3 linked regions of the Homo sapiens genome follow. The protein of the gene in region 1 interacts with the protein of each later gene in a biochemical or structural test. Each region holds a gene or a part of one and is shown in the gene's direction. Other genes may lie near its edges.

What was found. The genes of interacting proteins can lie anywhere in the genome.
Region 2: the proteins of SORT1 (region 1) and NTF3 form a complex in vitro, tested with the Homo sapiens proteins (one study listed by BioGRID).
Region 3: the proteins of SORT1 (region 1) and TG interact in a biophysical measurement, tested with the Homo sapiens proteins (one study listed by IntAct).

The regions. Positions count from the first base shown.
Region 1 is NC_000001.11:109,387,024-109,395,799, reverse strand, and holds part of SORT1 (sortilin isoform 1 preproprotein), read left to right. Parts: intron 1-2,664; exon of another isoform or gene 2,665-2,773; intron 2,774-8,776.
Region 2 is NC_000012.12:5,491,108-5,495,799, forward strand, and holds the end of NTF3 (neurotrophin-3 isoform 1 preproprotein), read left to right. Parts: intron 1-3,024; exon of another isoform or gene 3,025-3,086; coding exon 3,087-3,881; 3' UTR 3,882-4,192; downstream 4,193-4,692. UniProt on the Homo sapiens protein: Seems to promote the survival of visceral and proprioceptive sensory neurons.
Region 3 is NC_000008.11:132,862,844-132,869,957, forward strand, and holds the start of TG (thyroglobulin precursor), read left to right. Parts: upstream 1-4,114; 5' UTR 4,115-4,157; coding exon 4,158-4,224; intron 4,225-5,271; coding exon 5,272-5,380; intron 5,381-6,885; coding exon 6,886-6,983; intron 6,984-7,114. UniProt on the Homo sapiens protein: Acts as a substrate for the production of iodinated thyroid hormones thyroxine (T4) and triiodothyronine (T3).

The DNA.
Region 1 (8,776 bases):
CCCTGCCTGGATTTATTCCTTGAGTCAGAGTCTTCCTGGTTAGTTTGAATTGATGTGTCATTTGTAATATATTGATTCCAAAGAAAGAGGTTGAAAAAACTGGCTCAGGGGTTCTAAGGCCAAATCTGTGGAAGAGTAGACCTAAAACCACTCATTCTTTGAAGTCCACATGTAAAGAAATTTTCTTCTATTTCTTTCATTTAGCTGTTTGCAATAATTTTTTTTTAGTTTTTCTCTCCCAGTCTTTTTTTCAGTGACCTTATTTAAAATAGCTATTTTGGCTGGGCACGGTGGCTCATGCCTGTAATCTTATCAATGTGGGAGGCCAAGGCAGGTGGATCACTTGAGGTCAGAAGTTCAAGACTAGCCTGGCCAACATGGTGAAACCCTGTCTCTACTAAAAATACAAAAGTTAGCCAGACGCGGTGGCATGCGCCTGTAATTCCAGTTATTCTGGAGGCTGAGGCATGACGATCACTTGAACCCAGGAGGCAGAGGTTGCAGCGAGCCGAGATCGCACCGTTGTACTCCAGCCTGGGTGACAGAGTGAGACTCTATCTCAAAAAAAAAAAAAAAAAAAAAAAAAAAAAAGTTTTTGCGTTTGTTAGTCATCCGTGGTCTCTTCTTCAGAGATCTCATCCTTTCTGTATCTGGTTAAAAAAAAAAAAAGTGGAGCCTTTGTTTAATATCATTTACCTTAAAAATGGTTAAGTAGTACTTCTTAACCAAGAATTGTTATGTAGTAGCCTGTTCTTCTGTTTATTTATTTGGTTTTAGAAGTCATAAAAAATCCTGAACTGTATTGAAGAGATCTAGTATTTTTGGACCGTTTATAAAACAGTGTGAAATAAAAGCATCAGCATGACAGAACAACTTTTTATCAGAGATATTGTACTTTGTACAACTGGGGAAGGAAGGTACATGTAGAATCATTTTTCCTACATAACATGACAGGATTCGAGTCCCAAGAAAAAGCAAAAGTTCATGGTTCTCTTATTTCTTTTAACTTGGTCCTGTTTCATTTCAAGCCACATTAATTCACATCATCAATGTATGTGAATGCCCTCCAAATGCCTAGATCTGTGCTAGATGCTGGGGTGCCAAGATACAAAGAAAAGATCATTCAGACTGGAGAATGAAAAGCCTCAGAAGGTTATAGCAAACTACTAGACCTGTGTCTGTGGCTTATGAGGATATATTAGCATTTAACCTGTCTTCTCAAGAAAGCACGGTAAAGCTAAAGCATAATAGTGCGTTTATATTACGGTTTAAGGAGACCGGTGTCCTGATGACCACTCAGGCTTCTCTGTCCATGAAATCCAGCAGGTTTTTCTCTTTGCCCAAGCCTCCCTTTTTCTCTCTAAGGTTTTTTTTCTCATATCATTTCTTTTCAATCTATTAATTTAAAATATATTTAAAGTGCATTGGGTTTATTACACACAGCATATATTTTTTCACATAGAAGTCCTAATGATTAAGTGCTTTATTTTAGGAGTTGAGGCAGGAGAGGAAAACATTTTCCTTTCTAGTTACAGTATTACAAGTTAGCTATAATAGACTCATGGGAAAGTGGAAATAAAAAATACTGGCTATTACTAAAAAAACAAACAAAAGGGATGACAAGAAAACGAAGGAGAAAGATAAATAGTTATAACTTTCCAAAAATTATGCTCCCTAATTTTGTTCTAAGGGTTTGACTTACCATGGTAAGGTGGTATAGCACTGCCTTATCTGGACTGCCTGCATTTGAACCCTGGCCATGTCACTGTGTGATCCTGGGTGAGTTACTTAAGTTTTCTGTGTCTCAGTTCCTAATCTGTAAAGTGAAGATAAGAGCACTTAATTTGTAGGGTGGTTGTGAGAATTAAATGAGTGTGTGTTAAATTATATATACATAATATATACGTATATGTATATTATTGTATAAATATATATTTGTATTACATAATATATGCATATGTAATATTGTATTTGTAATGAGTTATAGTATGTATTACAACATATCACATTGTGTTGTATAATCTATACATATGTAATAACTCATTAGAAGAATGTCTGGCACATAATTAGCACTCAGCAATTAGCTATCATTTATAAATGCTCTCTTCTTAGACTCAATAATCTTCCTTTTGCCTGGAACTCAAAACTGTTTTCATGCCACATTTTTAACTGATTCTTTCCTTCAGCTGCTTGGAGTATTCATGACATGTATAACCTTTGTACATGCGTGAAATTGAGCAGGCCTAGAAGACTTTATTGTTGGTTACTAAGTTGGATTGCTTCAAAACATTTCTGCTGTAAGCACCCCTTTGAGGGTAGGCATGAAACTGTCTTAAAGGAACAGATGAAATGCCTTGGCCAGAGTTGTGGTGGTGGCTGACATAATTTCCTTACTTCTCATTCCTGTGTACAGACCATTTGACAATTTCCTTAAAACTTTTTAAACTTATGATGAATAAAGCCAGGAACTCTTGCTTATTTTCTGTCCTCCCTCTGCTCCTGTCACTAACTACTTCTGTAAACATAACTTCCCAACTTCTACTCCAACTTTAAAGCATCTGGTTCCTTAAATAAACAGGCCCTGTAGAGAGGCCGTGTTGTATGGGGTGTCAGCTCTGGGAAGAATGCGTGTGTTTGTTTGCTGGCTCTGGCAGGGTTGAGTCCAAGCTGACAGGACTGAGTGTGCCTGTCAGAGGCTTCAGGGAGCTGCCGCTGAAGACCTCGGCCTGTTGTTGTGAATCGCCAGACCTTTGTAACACCCGGAAGTCTGAAGGTCAGTCCTTTAATGCCCCGGAACTTCCTAACTGCCTCATTTCTTCCAATACTTGGCCTCTCTTCATCCTACCTTCCCTAGCACCCCCAGCCGTCTAGCTTATTTAATAGTCTCTTGAGTTCTGTTTCTTCCATTCAGCTTTGGATCAAGGAGTAGGAACTCTGTAGGATCTCCTTCTTGGTCCTGGTTGAGCAGAGTGAGCGAAACCTTCATGAAGAGTCTTCTCTCATGCAATGTATAGTCAGACCTTTAGCCCCTAGAGGGATGTTAAAATGACTTATGCATTGGATATTTCAGTAAGAAGTATCAGCAGATTTGATGAAGTGTAATTTATCTGGGGAAAGGTTAGTCTTCATCTGAAGTTTGGTTGGGATGAGAGTAGAAAGCTAGCCAGGTATGACAGATGGCTCCAAGGGAATGCAGTGTTAACAATTAGGTAAGTTCTCTGCTGACTCAAATGTTTGGCTCTGTGCACAGTGATTTTTAATTAGAAATCTGAGTCTCATGTCTGCTTGTGGAAATAATTGGAAGAAGGCTTATGTTCTGTTCAATTTCTAATGGCTATTTTCTTTTTGTGATTATTAACAACAATAATAGGCTTTCTATCCTGCTGTTTTGATCAGATCTTTCATGTCAGGGTCACAGATACTATTAGCAGTTTCTTCTGCACTCTGCCAGTTTCCAGTCAACTCTCGTCAACAGGCATTGGGTTCTCAGTGGGTGACTGCAGAGTCTGCGTTCCCCAACTTTGTCCCAGTTGGCCTGTTACCCTTGTGTGACCATCACATGCTGGGCAGTGCTTAGCACCAAGTTGTAATGGTCAGGACGGGGGAGTAACGTTTGTTCTTCTCCCTCCTTCCTACCTAATCCTACCCCTCAATTTTTTTTACAGAAAGTGAACTATGTTTTGAGGCTGCAGAAATGAGGCTCAGATATTTTATATAATTAGGAGCTAATATTAAGGCAGACAAAGCCATCACATTTGACATGTAATTTAAAATACAGCTTTTCTAGAAACAACAAAACTGTGGCAATGGCTCTGACAATATTATGAACTAGATACTGCATTTGTAGATTTCTACAAGTTTCAGTTCCCTTTCTCTCCTTTTGTCATCAGTGTTTTTATTGCATCTTTTACTTCTATTTTTAAAAACTTGGTGAAAACTTGTTCTTCCCACTATGTGGTCTCAGTGATTTGTATGCAGGTGGATTTGAGGATTAATGGGGCTTGAAGAACAAGCTGATCAATTTCAGTCAGTTCTAGGCAGCTTTTTTGTTCTTGTTTCAATGGTGACTGCAGTCAAAGTTGGGTTAGTAATATGTTGCTTTGAGATAGTTTGGTTGAATGAATGTTCATGACAGATTCCTCATACCTATGAAAATTTTTAGGTGAAAGATGGAGGCTGTTTTTCCTTCTCTATCCCCAATCTCAATCTCAGGAAACCACAGTAAAAACAAAATCCTTCCACTCAGAACCTGTCGTGTTTTGCCGAGGAAGTTTTCTGTGAATGTAACTTATTTTCTGTTTTGTGTTTTAGTCTCTGGCCCTCGATTCCTCATCTACAGCACAAGAAGTTTTGGACTAGCTTTAAAATTTCTTTCAAAAATTCTATGATTCATATGGGAGAGGCCAGAGGTTGTGATCACAAATGTTTTCCTGGCTGATTCCAAATTTAGAAGCAAACTGTGGCTGTTTGACTTCCCAGTCAAACTTGAACATAGCATGGATTTCACATTTAGGGGTGTTTTACTACCACCTCCAGAACTTGCTTCAGTGAAATATGCATGTTCTTAAAGATAGCAGGAGTACTTTTTTTCATGTAGTTATGAAAGACATTTTTCTCTTTTATTTTGGGGGTAATATTTTACCGTTTGTTCCTTGTTGGCTGAAAAATCTAATGCTAATAAAAGCTACTAGCTTGAATAGTCCAAAAGCAAACCCAACAGATAGCAGTAAATTCATTTTTCTTTTTCCCTTTCCTATAGTACTCTGCCAAAACTGGGGCTTTTTTTCTTCATCCTGGCTGCCTGTGTGTTTGAAAATAGATGGTCAGCTTACCATAAATATATTCACATGTAGAAACTTATATGTGATTAATTGGCTTGATTTATTTTTATCAGAAGAAAACGTATGTATGTTCCTTCTCTGGCTTATGAATACTATCCGTCTTATGTTTGCTTTGGATAAGCATTTTAGTCTTCCTGTATGTCCTAAAACGCGCGCGCGCACACACACACACACACACACACACACATACACACACACACACACACTTTCTAATATTGTACTGAAGCCAGTTTGCAAGTCTGGTTCCACAGTACAATTGCTCTGAAGGACCAGGAGAAATTGAACTGGGAAGGAAAATTTGTATTAACTTCAATAATTCCCAGACAAGTTAGTTCAAATCATTTTTATCTAGTATTTGCTATTTGTCACAAAGGATTCAAAACATAAATATGTTGTATACAAAATCTCAAAGAGATGTCTCAATACCCAGATTTGGGTCCTGGCTCTGCTGCTTCATAGCTGTGTGATTATGGAAAATCACTTAACTTCAGTGGTCTTTACAGTTGTTTTTTAAACTAGAGCAGCAGCTCTTAGGATTGTTTGGAGGGTCAAATGAGAAGTTTTATCAACGTGTTTTGTTAAAGGTAAAGTACTATATAGATGTCATTCATTTAGACACTTACTGAGCTGCCTGCCATGTACTGAGTGGAGTCCAGACCTGTGCATAAACAAAGCAAAGCACTGGGGCTATCTTAAGGATTTAGGTGTTCAGAGATGTTTCACTGGGAGTTTGGAAGAAGGCTTGACCACTGCAGTGCAGTGTTCTGGGAAAGCCCTCTGGCTGAAGAGAGAATCAAAGTGGAGGTGATTTTTAGGGAGATCTGTAACGGCACGAAGGAAGTAGGAAAATCCAAGATATGTTCAAGGGATGGTCAACAGAAACTTTATTTTAGGGTGAGGTAGTTGATGGGGAGTATGACTAAGGTTTCCAGGAAAACATATAGGGAAGTTAAAAAAAAGATAGCTCTTTTGTGGGGGATGGAAAGAGAGGAGGGGCGTGGGTAGTGAGTTTGGCAAAAGGACTTACTTGTGAAAGAGAGAGTTTTAACAGATAGTGCTAGACATGAGGCTAGAGCTGGAGGAACCAGAGGTAGAAATGGGGAGCCAAGAAGAGTTCCCCTTTCAGAGGCCGGCCATTGCTTTGGTCTTGGATGTGAAGGTCCCAGAGGAAAGCAGAACAGAAGGTGAGGCAGACCATCCTTTATACTTGAAGTGCTAACGTTTCCAAAAAGCACTCCTAAACTTCTGGACCTGGTTGAAGAAGAATGTGAGCCAAGGCATGAGGAAGCCAGGAGCTGTAAGACAGTGATGCCTATGAACAGATTTTTCTGAACATTTGTGAACAAGGATAAGGTTGAACTCTTGCTGATAATGTGCTTAATGGTTTGAATCATGGATTATTGGGCCGATTAGCTGGTCAGAGCCCTTTTGCTGATGCGGCTGGCTGACTTGCTTACTGGCCAAGAGCTGGGAGTAGAACACAGATGTCCCAACATGGTGCTGCATTTGGAAGTGTTTCATAGGAGTGTTGAAATCAATGCATTTGCTTTAGGGATAAGGCAAAGTTATGAGATCCCAGTTATAAGTAATATAGTTGTGAATTCTACTCTTTTTCTCAAGGTCATAGTACCCTCAACAGAGCTCAACTAGCCTTTCTAGGCCTCAGTTTCCCGTCACATAAAATGGAGGATTATCATGAAGTTTTGAAGGGAAGATATATGTGAAAATATTTTGAAACCTTGAAGTACCGTATGAGTATGATTTGTATAATTCCTTAATAAACCTGCTGATGTGTCACAGCCCCCACAGGGCCTGCTTGTCAGCCAGGTGATCCTGATAGATACAGCCCTTGAGCCAAACCCTGAGGAGCATGTGTATTAAAGCAGACGGATGAGGCATAAATGCGTTTGGTTTATCACTTGGCAGAGTTGGATGACAGGCTTGGGTGGGGGTGGCAAGAATTAAAGTGAGTCAAGATTGGCAGAAATGTAAGACGTGTATGTAGTGGTTTTCTTCTTTTTTTAAGCCTTTGTGATTATGTCAAACTTTTGTTAATATAATTGATGATGGTTTGAGGCAGTAGTTTGGGGGAACAGGATCTCAGGTATTAGATCTGGATTCAAACTTCAGTGGTGACCATGGACAAATTAACCTCTCTGAACCTTAGATTTTTCATCTATGAAATGGGAGTACTAATACTACCTCTTAGGGTCATTGTGAAGATAGTACAGGATTTAGTGTATATTCTTTTGTTGAGGATTTCTTGTAATGATTTTCATTACAAAGCTTCTGACACATTACCAGTTAGATGCTTAAATATTTGTACATGTGCTTAATTTTTTTCATATCTCTAATATTTCTAGAGAATTATTATAGGTACTCACAAGAACTGCATCTGGATTAAGACATATTAGCCCTGGCTAAGCAGGGTGACTCACACCTATAATCCCAAGATTTTTGGAGTCTGAGGCAAGAGAATCACTTGAGCCCATGAGTTTGAAACCAGCCTGGGCAACATAGTGAGACCCCATCTGTATAAAAAAATTTTTTTAATTAGCCTGGTATGGTAGCATATGCCGGTAGCCCTAGCCACACAAGAGTCTGAGGTGAGGGGATCACTTGAGCCCAGGAGTTTTGAGGCTGTCGTGAGCTATGATTGCGCCGCTGCATTCCAGTCTGGGCAACAGAGCGAGATACTGTCTTCCAAAAATACAAAAAAATTTATTAGGGGTAGGTAGTGGTGCACATCTAGAGTTCCAGCTATTTGGAAGGCTGAGGCAGGAGGATAGCTTGAGCCCAGGAGTTCAAAGCTATAGGACACTGTGATCGCATCTGTGAATAACCACTGTACGCCAGCCTGGGCAACATAGTGAGGTCCCATATCTAAAAGGAAAAAAAAATGTACTACTTGTATCACTGGACTCAGGATGAAAAAAGAGGAGGGTGGGAGATAGGTTTAGGCAGAGATCATCTATTCAAAATGCCTTTCTTTCTTTTTCTTTTTTTTTTGAGACAGGGTCTCGCTCTGTTGCCCAGGCTGGAGTGCAGTGGCACTATCTCGGCTCACTGCAACCTCCGCCTCTGGGGCTCAAGCAGTTCTCTGCCTCAGCCCCCCAAGTAGCTGGGATTACAGGTGCCCGCCACCACACCCGGCTAATTTTTGTATTTTTAGTAGAGATGGGGTTTCACCATCTTGGCCAGGCTGGTCTTAAACTCCTGACCTCGTGATCCACCCACCTCGGCCCCAAAGTGTTGGGATTGCAGGCGTGAGCCACCGCGCCCAGCCCAAAATGCCTTTCTTGAAGCTATGGGAGATAGAGAAGAAAATAATCAGATTAATAATCAGAAAACAGTAATCAGATACCTGGTCATCTGGTTATAATAGCTTCAAGCATATATGGTTAAATAGTTTTTGTTTTGTTTTAAAACAAAATTTTAAATTTTAAACAAAATTTAAAAATTTAAGAGACATGGTCTTTACTGTGTCACCCAGACTGGAGTGCAGGGGTGTAATCATGGTTTGTTGTAACCTTGAATTCCTGGGCTCAAGTGATCCTCCTGCCTCAGCCTCTGCAGTAGCTAGGACTACAGGCACATATCCCTGTGCCTGGCTAGTAAATAGGTTGAAATAACTTAAAGTTATTTATTTTTATTTATTTATTTTTTGAGACTGAGTCTCACTGTTGTCCTGGCTGGATGGAGTACAGTGGCATGATTTCAGCTCACTGCAACCTCTGCCTCCTGGGTTCAAGTGATCCTCCTGCCTCAGCCTCCAAAGTAGCTGGGACTGCAGATGTGCACCACCACACCTGGCTAATTTTTGTATTTTTAGTAGAGATGGGGTTTCACCATGTTGGCCAGGCTGGTCTTGAACTCCTGACCTCAGGTGATCTGCCTGCCTCAGCCTCCCAAAGTGCTGGGATTACAGGCATGAG
Region 2 (4,692 bases), on another chromosome or scaffold:
TCACTCTCTGCCATTGTTTAGCAGTCTGACCTTAGACAGCTCACTTCACCACAACTGCAGGCCTCCGTTCCCTTATATGTATAAATGAGGAGGTTGTCTAGGGTCCTTTCCAGCTGCAAACCTCTGTGTTTTGGGGAGTTCTGTTAGCAACATTCTTGGACTTGCTCTCTACGAGAAAAGCTAGAAGTCGATTATTAAAATGGAGTCCACAGGAAGCCTGCAGGGCTTTAAGACAGCCTTCTAAAGAGTTTAGAAACACTCACCAGCCTGCAGATGACTTACTCCCACTACTTATTACAAAGTATCATGGCAAGTAAGAAAGAAATGGTCAGCCACTGGGAGAGCAGGCTGAGGTTGCAAGGAAGTGGCAGGTGCTATCGTTGGGATCTTGGGGGAGCATTGTAGAAAGGTCAGCTTTGGAACCAGGCACTGAAAAACGGGTGAAATTTCAACAGGAGAGGCAGTGCACATGGGTTGTGATTTGAGCAGCAGTGAGTAGTGAATGGGGTTGGAGCAAGAGGCCTGTGAGCCCAGTCATCACATGGAAAAGGGAGGTGAGGGCCAGAGTGCAGAGAACCCCTCTCACTTTCCTGTGGGTCTCTCCTCTTCTTTTTTTTTTTTTTTTTTTTTGAATTGGAGTCTTGCTCTGTCGCCCAGGCTGGAGTGCAGTGGCGTGATGTTGGCTCACTGTAAGCTCCGCCTCCCGGGTTCACACCATTCTCCTGCCTCAGCCTCCCGAGTAGCTGGGACTACAGGCTGCCACCGTGCCCTGCTAATTTTTGTATTTTTTTTTAGACGGGGTTTCACCTTGTTAGCCAGGATGGTCTCGATCTCCTGACCTCGTGATCCACCCACCTCGGCCTCCCAAAGTGCTGGGATTACAGGCATAAGCCACCGTACCCGGCCTTTCTCCTCTTCTTTAAACTGCATTTAGGTTGTCCTCATCTATAAGATGAAGGAATAAGATTAGATGGCCTCTTTATATGGCTTATCTACTTCTAATAAACTTTGGTTCCATATTCCAGCCACCACCCATAAAGACTCTTACTTTTTCCTCCTCAATCCATCAGCATCAGCCAGCATTCTCCCTCTCAGTTCATCCTGGTCATTACCTCACTAATCTGTACCTTGACTCTTATTCTACCTGGGACCTCCCCTCACTAACCATACTTGATTTATTTCCTTAAGAGCGGATATCCTGTGTATTCTTAGCTTACAGTGGCTGAGCTTTTGGGAGGTTTAACAAATTGTTTTTCAATAGACTCTCAGTCCTAAATGATTTTATTGCAGCTGTATTATTCTTTTTGAGGGGAGTAGAGAATGTAATCCTAGTTGTATGCCATATTTTTTGTATTGTTCAAGTTGCATTTTGTTGGGCCTGTAATATTGAAGAAAATGTCACTTGTATGCAGAATAGGAGGGAGATTCCTTATGCTGTAGAGGAACCATTTTCCTAGGATAGTACAATTCCTTAGAGTCATCTCTAAGGGTGAGCAGCAAAGCTAGAATCCCTCTCTTGGCTTTGACCTTGAAGGAGTCAGTTTTCCCAAAGACTAGTTCCCATGGAAAGAAGATGGTCTCCTTATCACAGCAGCAAGAGGAGGCAGTATGAGCAGAGTGCCTCACTGTTGTTGACCTCTAGGGACAAGTGAGCCGGCAGTATTTCAGACAAGCTGGGAAAGAGGCTGTCTGTGAGTCCTGGGAGCGAGTGAGCACTGGCAGGCTCAGACATAGGTGCTGGTTAGCAGGACTGCTTTTCTGTTTCTTGTGTCGGCTTTGTTTATTTCCTCTCTATTTTCCCCCTGGACTTAGTAAAGTCTTTCCGAAAATACCAAAGGTGAACCAGGGGAAGAGTTTTTATTTTCCATGTTTGGACAGAACTTTAAAGAGGAAATGATGTACCCCCCTGGGAGCCAGTGAGGTGGCAGCGATGGTGATTAAGGAGTGAATATCTCAAGGAGGTGGACGAATTCGGGGATCACTAGCTCAGCTGCCCCTCTCCACCTGGAGCATCTCCTTCCAGTGCTACCCTCAGAACATCTGGGCTTTGCTCTAGTGAGGGAGAGACTAGCAATGAAGGTGTCTTGAGATCAGCACTGTAATTCCACCAGGACGCCACCGGAGTCCGGTGTTAAGCTTCTACTATGGCAACAGAATGAGAGCGTGGATGGGTTGAAATGCCATTTCAACAAGGAAATAGTAGAATTAGAAGAAGCATAAGCACTAAAAGGAACATTTTGTAGCAGAAATGTTAAAAATCTAAAGGAGGCAAGTGAATCAACAATGACTCTTCTATTCTGGGCAAGTCCAGCCCATTTATGTAAGGTGGTTATTCTGCATCTCTGTCTTCTGCAAGTAGTGCTGTGGCAGAGCTGCGTTTTGTGGAGAGCGTCCCCGGGGATGGAGCAGATCAGTTGGTGATGCGTATGTATCAGAAAGCTCGGCAGAGCACCCTGGAACGTAGGCCCTCTCGCGGAGTGGGTAGTGGCCCTACATGTTCATTTCCAAGGGCAGGAGAATAGACCGTTCCAGCTGCGGCCTGGCCAGGGATGACCCCACATCTGACACTGCAATATGGGGGCAACTGAACCAGTCCTCAGCCTCAGTGTGTTCCAGGGGCTGCAGCTGGGGAGCAGTCGAACTCTTTCTTGAGACAATTACAAGGCCACCGCTGCTGCTGCTGAAGGGAAGTTACTCCATGTTTACAATTCTCAGGTTTGAAGTTTTCATGCTTTGCCAAGGTAGAGTGAACCATGCGTCTTTGCAGGCTCAAGGGATGTTTAAAGAAGCGGTAGGACATCGTCCACCCACAAGCAGAGACCGCAGGATAAAGCAGACATCCAATGTAAATACAACCCGTGCAAAAAGCAGAGTCGGCAGACCTGGAGTGCATTCGCAGTATCTCCCGGGGGTGGGGGAAAGAAATCACCTCTTCAGAATGTCCAGAGGGGAGTTGCCTTGCTTACCTGGGGGGCGGTACCCTCTCTCGTGCCCTCACAGGGCTACTCAGCCTCAGGTAGCTGGTGCCAGAATAACACAGACTCAGCTGCCAGAGCCTGCTCTTAACACCTGTGTTTCCTTTTCAGATCTTACAGGTGAACAAGGTGATGTCCATCTTGTTTTATGTGATATTTCTCGCTTATCTCCGTGGCATCCAAGGTAACAACATGGATCAAAGGAGTTTGCCAGAAGACTCGCTCAATTCCCTCATTATTAAGCTGATCCAGGCAGATATTTTGAAAAACAAGCTCTCCAAGCAGATGGTGGACGTTAAGGAAAATTACCAGAGCACCCTGCCCAAAGCTGAGGCTCCCCGAGAGCCGGAGCGGGGAGGGCCCGCCAAGTCAGCATTCCAGCCGGTGATTGCAATGGACACCGAACTGCTGCGACAACAGAGACGCTACAACTCACCGCGGGTCCTGCTGAGCGACAGCACCCCCTTGGAGCCCCCGCCCTTGTATCTCATGGAGGATTACGTGGGCAGCCCCGTGGTGGCGAACAGAACATCACGGCGGAAACGGTACGCGGAGCATAAGAGTCACCGAGGGGAGTACTCGGTATGTGACAGTGAGAGTCTGTGGGTGACCGACAAGTCATCGGCCATCGACATTCGGGGACACCAGGTCACGGTGCTGGGGGAGATCAAAACGGGCAACTCTCCCGTCAAACAATATTTTTATGAAACGCGATGTAAGGAAGCCAGGCCGGTCAAAAACGGTTGCAGGGGTATTGATGATAAACACTGGAACTCTCAGTGCAAAACATCCCAAACCTACGTCCGAGCACTGACTTCAGAGAACAATAAACTCGTGGGCTGGCGGTGGATACGGATAGACACGTCCTGTGTGTGTGCCTTGTCGAGAAAAATCGGAAGAACATGAATTGGCATCTCTCCCCATATATAAATTATTACTTTAAATTATATGATATGCATGTAGCATATAAATGTTTATATTGTTTTTATATATTATAAGTTGACCTTTATTTATTAAACTTCAGCAACCCTACAGTATATAAGCTTTTTTCTCAATAAAATCAGTGTGCTTGCCTTCCCTCAGGCCTCTCCCATCTGTTAAAACTTGTTTTGTGATCCGGCTCTCAGGAGTCACTCTGTAAAATCTGTGTACACCAGTATTTTGCATTCAGTATTGTCAAGGCCATGACTGTTGTTTTAGTAAACTTGTTAAAATCAGATGATGTCAGAGTTGTGTATAAACACAGTTATATCCCTCTTCTGGTACATTTAATGTTGGGTTAATGAATTAAAAGAACTGTTATGGCCTGCACTTACTTAAAATGATACCCTGTAGCTCTGGCCAGCAAGTTCTATATCAAATTCTCTGCTGTTAGTTTGGCAAATTAGAATTATGATTTGCTCCAGTGTTATGGTCCTGGAACAATAACAACGACCCTGGCAATTTTAGTTTTGGAAGTTTCTTTGCAGCACATTTGTTGTTTTGGGGTTTGGGGTTGTTTAAGGGTTGAATTTTTTTGTTTTGGCTTTGGTTTTTGTTTTGCTTTTTGCAAGTGGTTTCATCTTTTTAGGCACATAGGAATTTTTTAAAACTATTTGTAACAAAATAATTGCATGACTACCCAGAAGCAAACTGAAATGGATCATGAATCATCTATACATAGAGGATAAATTTATTTATGGCCGACTCTCAGCCTGTGACCACCCCTCCTCATCTG
Region 3 (7,114 bases), on another chromosome or scaffold:
AGGTTGTTATCTAAAAGTTTTCTGTCTTACCAGTCTGCCGCCCTTTCCTGGAACTTTGGCTCAAGAGGCTTTTCTGGGGGCTTGTTTTGTCTGTGCTCCCTGGCATTTCTGAGTATCCAGCTCCTCCAACATCTCATCTGAGACATAGGAGGCCGAATAAAATCCAGGAAACTCCTACCATATATCTTGTCCCTCTGATCCTGAGGTTGATAGCCAGTCTTTTTCTCTCTAACTTTCAGTGCCTTCTTATGTTTGTTTTATGTATAATATTCATGGTTTTAGCTATACTTAGTAAGAGGTACAGGGAAAAGTGTATTTTTCACTCTGTCTTTCTGGGATGAGAAATCAAGAACCAGAAATGTTTATTATTGCCCTAGGAACCTAGGAGAAGACGGGTTGTGGCTTTGTGTCCCTAGGTATTTGGAGGATGGGGAGAAGCTGTCCATAAGTGGTAGCAGGGATCCAGCAATATGGTGGCAGGCTGGACTAAAGGAGAGATGACTGGGAAGCAATTTCCTGTGGTGCATGACAGCTGATGGATGGATGTCAGAAACAGTGGTGTCTGATGATCCATTTGAAGCCATTTCCTCCTCTATATTGCTATTACTGTCCATCTCCCCCTAAATTTTCAGTAAGCACCTATTATATAAAGCACCTTAGTATTAAAAAATGAAGGAGATGAAAGAGAAGGTTGTGCAGTTGTATTTTGGGCCAAGAAGAGTGGGAGAGGTGGCAGGGCCAGCGATGAAGAGCCTGCCAGAGTGATGGAGGCCTGAGCAAGGAGCAAGTTGGTGAAGAAAGATTAGGACATTGCCATGTGGAGTCGCTGTGGAAGCCTGTTTGTTCTCAGAGCTCAGTGGAGAAGAGGTAAAAGTAGGGACCAGTAGCTGAGTCATTATGAGAAAGAGGGTTTCATGGTGGTGGAAGTGACACATTGCCTCGATTCTCTTGAAGCTTTCTGCTTTGTTGCTTGAGTGGAGAGAAGCACCTCTGCTATTGCGTATGGAGGGAAGCTCTTTGCATGGATTTTGAAGGCGGCCTCTGCATTTCGGACTACTGGGTGCTCCCCCACAGGCTCCTAACACCTTGCTGCTTCTCCAGGTGGGGTCTGACGTGGAGTCAGCTCACAGACCTGCCATTCCTCTCTCATAGTACTCCTCATTCCAGTGATATCTTGGCCTGCTTCATGAACCCTGAGCCCAGAGTTCCTAAAGCACCAAACCCAGTGAAGCAGAGACACTTCTGGCATGGGTCTGTGGGTTGCTTCTCAGGGGCCAGGCCAGCAAGAATGATTCAGCACACAGGCCAACCTGTGCAAGCTTTATGCATGCATTTTAGGGCAATGGGAAGAGTGGTGAGTGAGGTTTATGGTAAATCTTTAACCACATTCAATTTTTTCTAAGACTTTTCTGCTTTAGAACATGTAGAAATGGAGAAATGACCAGGGGCTGCACAATGCTGTGCTTATTATATTGCTGTAGAGAGAAGGATGCTGCCAGCTCTCCATAGCCTGGGGTGAACTTGGCCTATGTAATGAGGTAGCAGGGAGTCAGGCAGGTGAGTTCTTCCTCTTGTATTGCCTTTTCCAGTAAATGCCAATACACTCCCCAGCTCACCTTTACCTAACATCTAGGTCTTAATCCAAGTTGTCCTCCCACTCCCCAGGGTGAATTGATCTTCCTGCCACGGCACCTCCTGAGCATCTGTTGGCTGAGTCTCCATCCCCACCCGTGAAAACAGCCTTGTGATGTGCTGTTTAATATCACAGAATGGAAACAGTGTTTTGATTCACCAGGATCCAAACACTCTTTTTGTAGAATCTACAAAGTGACATGGATGGCCATATTTTAGAGGACTGTTCCTGCAGCTGGTGGGGAAGCCCTGGTGAGGAGCAGTACAGCAGGCTGTTCTGGCTGGCTCGTTCTGAGCTGTAGGGATGTGACGGAGGCAGGAAGAGTGAGGATGCAGAGGAGGGGAGGACCAAGGAAGTAGAAATGAGCAGCAGCCTGGTAGGACCTGGAGGCTGGTAAGACTTGAGGGGAGAAGCCTAGGATGGGGCTCGGATTTACTATCACAGAGACAGCCAATGGGGTGATGTCAGGAGAAAGGTTGAGGAGTTCAGGTTGGGATATGTTGAATTTGAAATACCTGTAGGGTGTCCAGGCAGAGTGGATCTGAGCTCAAAAAAGTCTGGCTGGAGACTGAGCTAGAGAGAGATGTGGGAGTTCCAGGCATGTGTGGTCCCCAAGAAGGACGGGCAGAGCACGGGTTCTCCCCTGTTTTTAATCCCATACCCTGACACTTCAAATGACTGTTGTGTTTTACTTTCTCTAGTTTATATCAGGAACCCAACAATGATGACAGTAGCTGTTATGGACTGAATTGTGTTCTCCCCCCAAATCCATATGCTGAAGTCCTAAAACCAGGACCTCAGAATGTGACCGCATTTGAAGGTAGGGTCTTTAAAGAGGTAATTAAGTGCACAATGAGGTCACAAGGATGGGCTCTAATCCAATATGACTGGTGTACTTAAAAGAAATAAATATTAAGACACAAACACACACAGGGAAGACCAAGTGAGGATACAGGGAGGAGATGGCCATCTGCAAGCCCAGGAGAGGAGTCTCCAAAGAAACCAACAGTGCTGACACTTTGATCTTGGATTTCCAGCCTTCAGAACTATGAGAAAATAAATTTCTGTTACTTAAGCCACCCAGTCTGTGATAGTTTGTGATGACACCCATAGCAGACTAGTACAGTAGCTAACACTGGATACTTATTATGTGTCAAATACTGTTTTAAGCACTTTGCATATTTTAACACATTTAATATTCATAGCAACCCTATTTGTGGAAGGTAGTACAGTCTACGGCACGGCAGCTATATCGGCCCCTTTATTTTCCCCAGGGTTTGGAGTCTCTTCCACTTTCCAGCTTGTCCTCCTGCCCTTCACTCTACCCGGGACCATATCCTCCAGATTCTCACAGGTCCCTCCATCTCTCCTCAGGTGCCAGGCTCAGCAACCTGCCCTCATTACCTGCCAGTTCCTGACCCTATCTGTCACTAGCTCCTTACCTGGCTGGATTGGTCTTCTGAATACTTGCCATTCCCTGGCATGATGCTTTTGCAAAATAAGAAAATCAATAATAATAATAATAACTGCTAGTGTCTAATAAGCATGTGCTCTTCAATGTCTATTCTCTTACAACTACCTTAACAAATAGGGACATATTATTATTCTCCTTTTAACTTTGCTTTCCAGAGAAGGAGGCTGGGGCTCAGGGAGATGAGGTGAGTTTTTCCAGGTCTCACAGGAACAGGACTGAAGGAAGGAAGCCATGTTTGCCAGGAGAAACCAAATGGACATACAGGCTTTCTGTGGAATACACAGTTCCTGCTATCTTTTGGTTGACAAAGTCTGAGGTCCTAGGAAAGAGAGGAAAGTAATAGAAATATGAATATGAGTGTGTGTGTATTTTGCTTCCCTCACCAAAGTTTTCACAGTCTATATTAATGAGGGCACGATTTTGCCTGTTTTGTTCTCTGCCATATCCTCATTGTCTAGATTAGGTGCCTGCTACTGTGGAGCTCTAAGAGGTTGTTAGAGAAAGAATAGAAGAAAGAAAAGAAGGAAGGAAGGAAAGAAGGAAGAAAGAAAAGAAAGAGGGAAGGAAGGAAAGAAAGAAGGAAGAATGAAAGGAAAGAAGGATAGAAGGGAGAAAGGAAGGAAAGAAGAAAGAAAGGAAGAAAGGAAAGAAGGAAGGAGGAAGGAGAAGGAGAAAGGGTAGGGTGGGGAAGGAAAGAACAAAGGATTGCTTTTCCCTCACTGTGGGCTTGAGCCTGTTCCCTCCAAAGATACAGAGCTTTGGTCTTTACCCATAAAAAAGGATTTTGAAGTCACCCCACCCCGTTCTGTTCCCCCACAGTTTAGACAAGATCCTCATGCTCCACTGGCCACACGAGTGCCCTCAGGAGGAGTAGACACAGGTGGAGGGAGCTCCTTTTGACCAGCAGAGAAAACAGGATGGGGCACTGCCTCACTGAGGACCTGGGGGTGGGAAGGAAAGTGCCAACGGCAGCTCTATAAAAGCTCCCTGGCCAGGGGACCTAGGGCAAGCAGTGGTTTCTCCTCCTTCCTCCCAGGAAGGGCCAGGAAAATGGCCCTGGTCCTGGAGATCTTCACCCTGCTGGCCTCCATCTGCTGGGTGTCGGCCAATATCTTCGGTAAGTTCTGAGGCCATGGAGCCAGGCGGTGGGGAGGGAGCTCCAGTGTCAGCCAGGCTCTGCCCTGGGCCTTCGAACAGGTGCGATCTAATTTAATCTTCACAAATTCCCACATGTCAGTGATTTGCTTTTTTTTTTTCAGATGAAGAGGCAGATTTAGAGAGCCGAACTGAATTACTTGAGGTCACAGAGCTAGTGATTGATGGAGCAGAAATGGGAAATGTGGTTGATCTTCCTAATTCAATTCTAGGTCCTCCTCACCCCACCATTTTGGCAAACTTTTGGCATTGACCTTGGGTTTTTATCCCCTTAGCTATTCCAAAGTCTGTGTCATCCATAACAGGTATTTTAGAAGCAGTAGAAAAAGAAATCTACCTATGAAGTGAAATAGCCCTAAGTTCTGTCTTTGGCTCAGCCACTTACCCATATGACTTCGGGCAAAGTGCCAAGCTTCTGTTTTTTTTTTTTTTTTTTCATTTAAAAAGTAAACAAATAACACACACCTCATGATGCGGTTGTGATTTCTGGGTAGGACCCTATGTGTTACAAGAGTTCTCAATGGAAAAATAAGTCATGTACATTATTAATTAATTGGTATTTCAATGTTTATCTGGAACATGTTACATCTGCAGGGCATGGCTTGATAGATTCAAGAAGAACTTCCTTACGGTTCTCTAACTTACTCCAAATAGCCTCATGGGAATTGCGGCAGGGTGGGGGCGGGCGGGGAACGTGTAGTCCCAGCGTTGATTTTGGGATCCTTCACTTGCCAGTTACGTGACTTTGGGCAGACGACTTTCGCTGCCTGAGACTTGGTGCCTCATGAGTGACAAGGATATATTGCCTGTCACCTCTTAGGAGAATGTTGCACATTAAATGAGCTAATGTCATACTTGTAAGAAAGTGTGCTTAGCTGCCAAATTTTAAAATAGGCTGTCATAGGTAATGATGATGACCCTGGAAAAGCATCTGTGCTTATGAGAGCCCGTCTCTGTCCTGGCAGCCCAGTCCACACTCTTCTTTGATGAACCACTTTTCTTTTCCTAGAGTACCAGGTGGATGCCCAGCCCCTTCGTCCCTGTGAGCTGCAGAGGGAAACGGCCTTTCTGAAGCAAGCAGACTACGTGCCCCAGTGTGCAGAGGATGGCAGCTTCCAGTAAGGCTTATGTCAGCAGCGAACTCTCAAGGTCCAAGATGCCATAAAAAGCATCTTGTGCCTTCCCCCCTCTTCCTGAGCTCTGCCCTGCAACTCCTTTGTGCATGTGAGGCTTGGCCACTGTCATTTGGAGGTGCCTGCCTTTCAGTTCCACTGTCATTTGGAGGTGCCTGCCTTTCAGTTCCCCAAGCTGTTCAACACTGGACAATCTGACCAAGTGAACCCCAATCCATGCTTCATCCTCCCACTGCCCTCCCTTCTCTTCTTGCCATCACTTTTTCTGTGATGGCTTGAATAAACGGCACGTGTGGGGAGTGGGGCAGGTTGAGGAGAGTGTCAAATGATCTGTGCTTTGGGACCTCTCCCTCCTCCAAGTATCCTCTTGAGAAGCTGGGGTGGTGGAAGCAGAGGCTGCCTTGACTTCCTAGTCCTTAGCTGCCACCGACCCTGCCCGGACTAGCTCTCTAGGCTGCCTCTGGGCTTCTGGGTCGCTGTCTCCACATTGAGCTGCTCTCTGAAAGGGGTTTCTCCAGCTGCCCTAATGCAGACTTGGGGCCTGAGACCCTCTCTGTGGAGAGTGTGGTAATAATCTAGACAATTCTTCCCTGCAGAATAGACAGGAATCCTTTGCAATGTGCATGCATTGAAATTTCCTTGTGCTATTCCAGTCATGTTGAATCAGGGGAACTCCATTTATATAACTGCGTTCTGGGAAATGTCTGTGAAACCTCCCTCCCTGCTGCTATCTTATGTACACTCTTAATGTGCCTAACCTCCCACGAGTGTGCAGAGATGCTGCTAGAGCAGTCCCTGCTTAGATCACTGGGAATTCTGGAACAGCAAGGAAGGAGTTAAGGAGGAAGTCTCACTTTCACCAGCCTTATTTATATTCCCATTCCCAACTCTCTTGTTCTGGCCTCTTGCAGTTTCAAACCTGGCCTCTCTTCAGGAGGCTTTGCATATGCTGTTCCCTTTACCTGGAATATCTTTTACCTTCTTATACCTCTGACCATCCTGCAGGTCTCAGTTCAGTCATCATTTCTGGGGAGTCAACTCTATGGCCTGGCCTGACCCCACCCATGTGCTTCCCAATATACCCTGCTGGCCCCTGATCCCACTAACATCCCACCCCCAAGCCCCCACTCCCTATCCATACAATGTGGGCACTGCCTTTACCCTCTGCAGCCTCATAATGCCTGAGGACACTTGGTGGATGTGGCTGAAGCCCTGCACTCCAGGGTGGGTCACTTGTTTTGGGGCTGGCAGGCTGGACAGGTGGTGAATGAATGGCTGGGGCAGGAGGCAGAGCAGGTGCTAGCCAGGCAGGAAAAGTGGGGCCTTTCCTTTCCCAGGTCAGCCACCCTTCTCCACTCCACTCTCTCCCTAATTTAAACGAACCAAAACTTGCAAGAATGGAAATGAAGAAGAAAAGTAGCCTGAGTGGGAGCCGGCATGTGGCTTTGGGGGCCCATCCCAGGGTCACCTGGTCTGTGTCTCCTCCTCAGGACTGTCCAGTGCCAGAACGACGGCCGCTCCTGCTGGTGTGTGGGTGCCAACGGCAGTGAAGTGCTGGGCAGCAGGCAGCCAGGACGGCCTGTGGCTTGTAAGTGGGAGTGGGGGACGTCCCTTGGAGGGACCCTGCTAGGACAACTCACTTCCAGGAATGAGCACTGGGTTTGGGTGGGTGACTGAGCAGGTCCTCCCTCTGGGCTGCTGGCTTCTCCTCTGTGAATA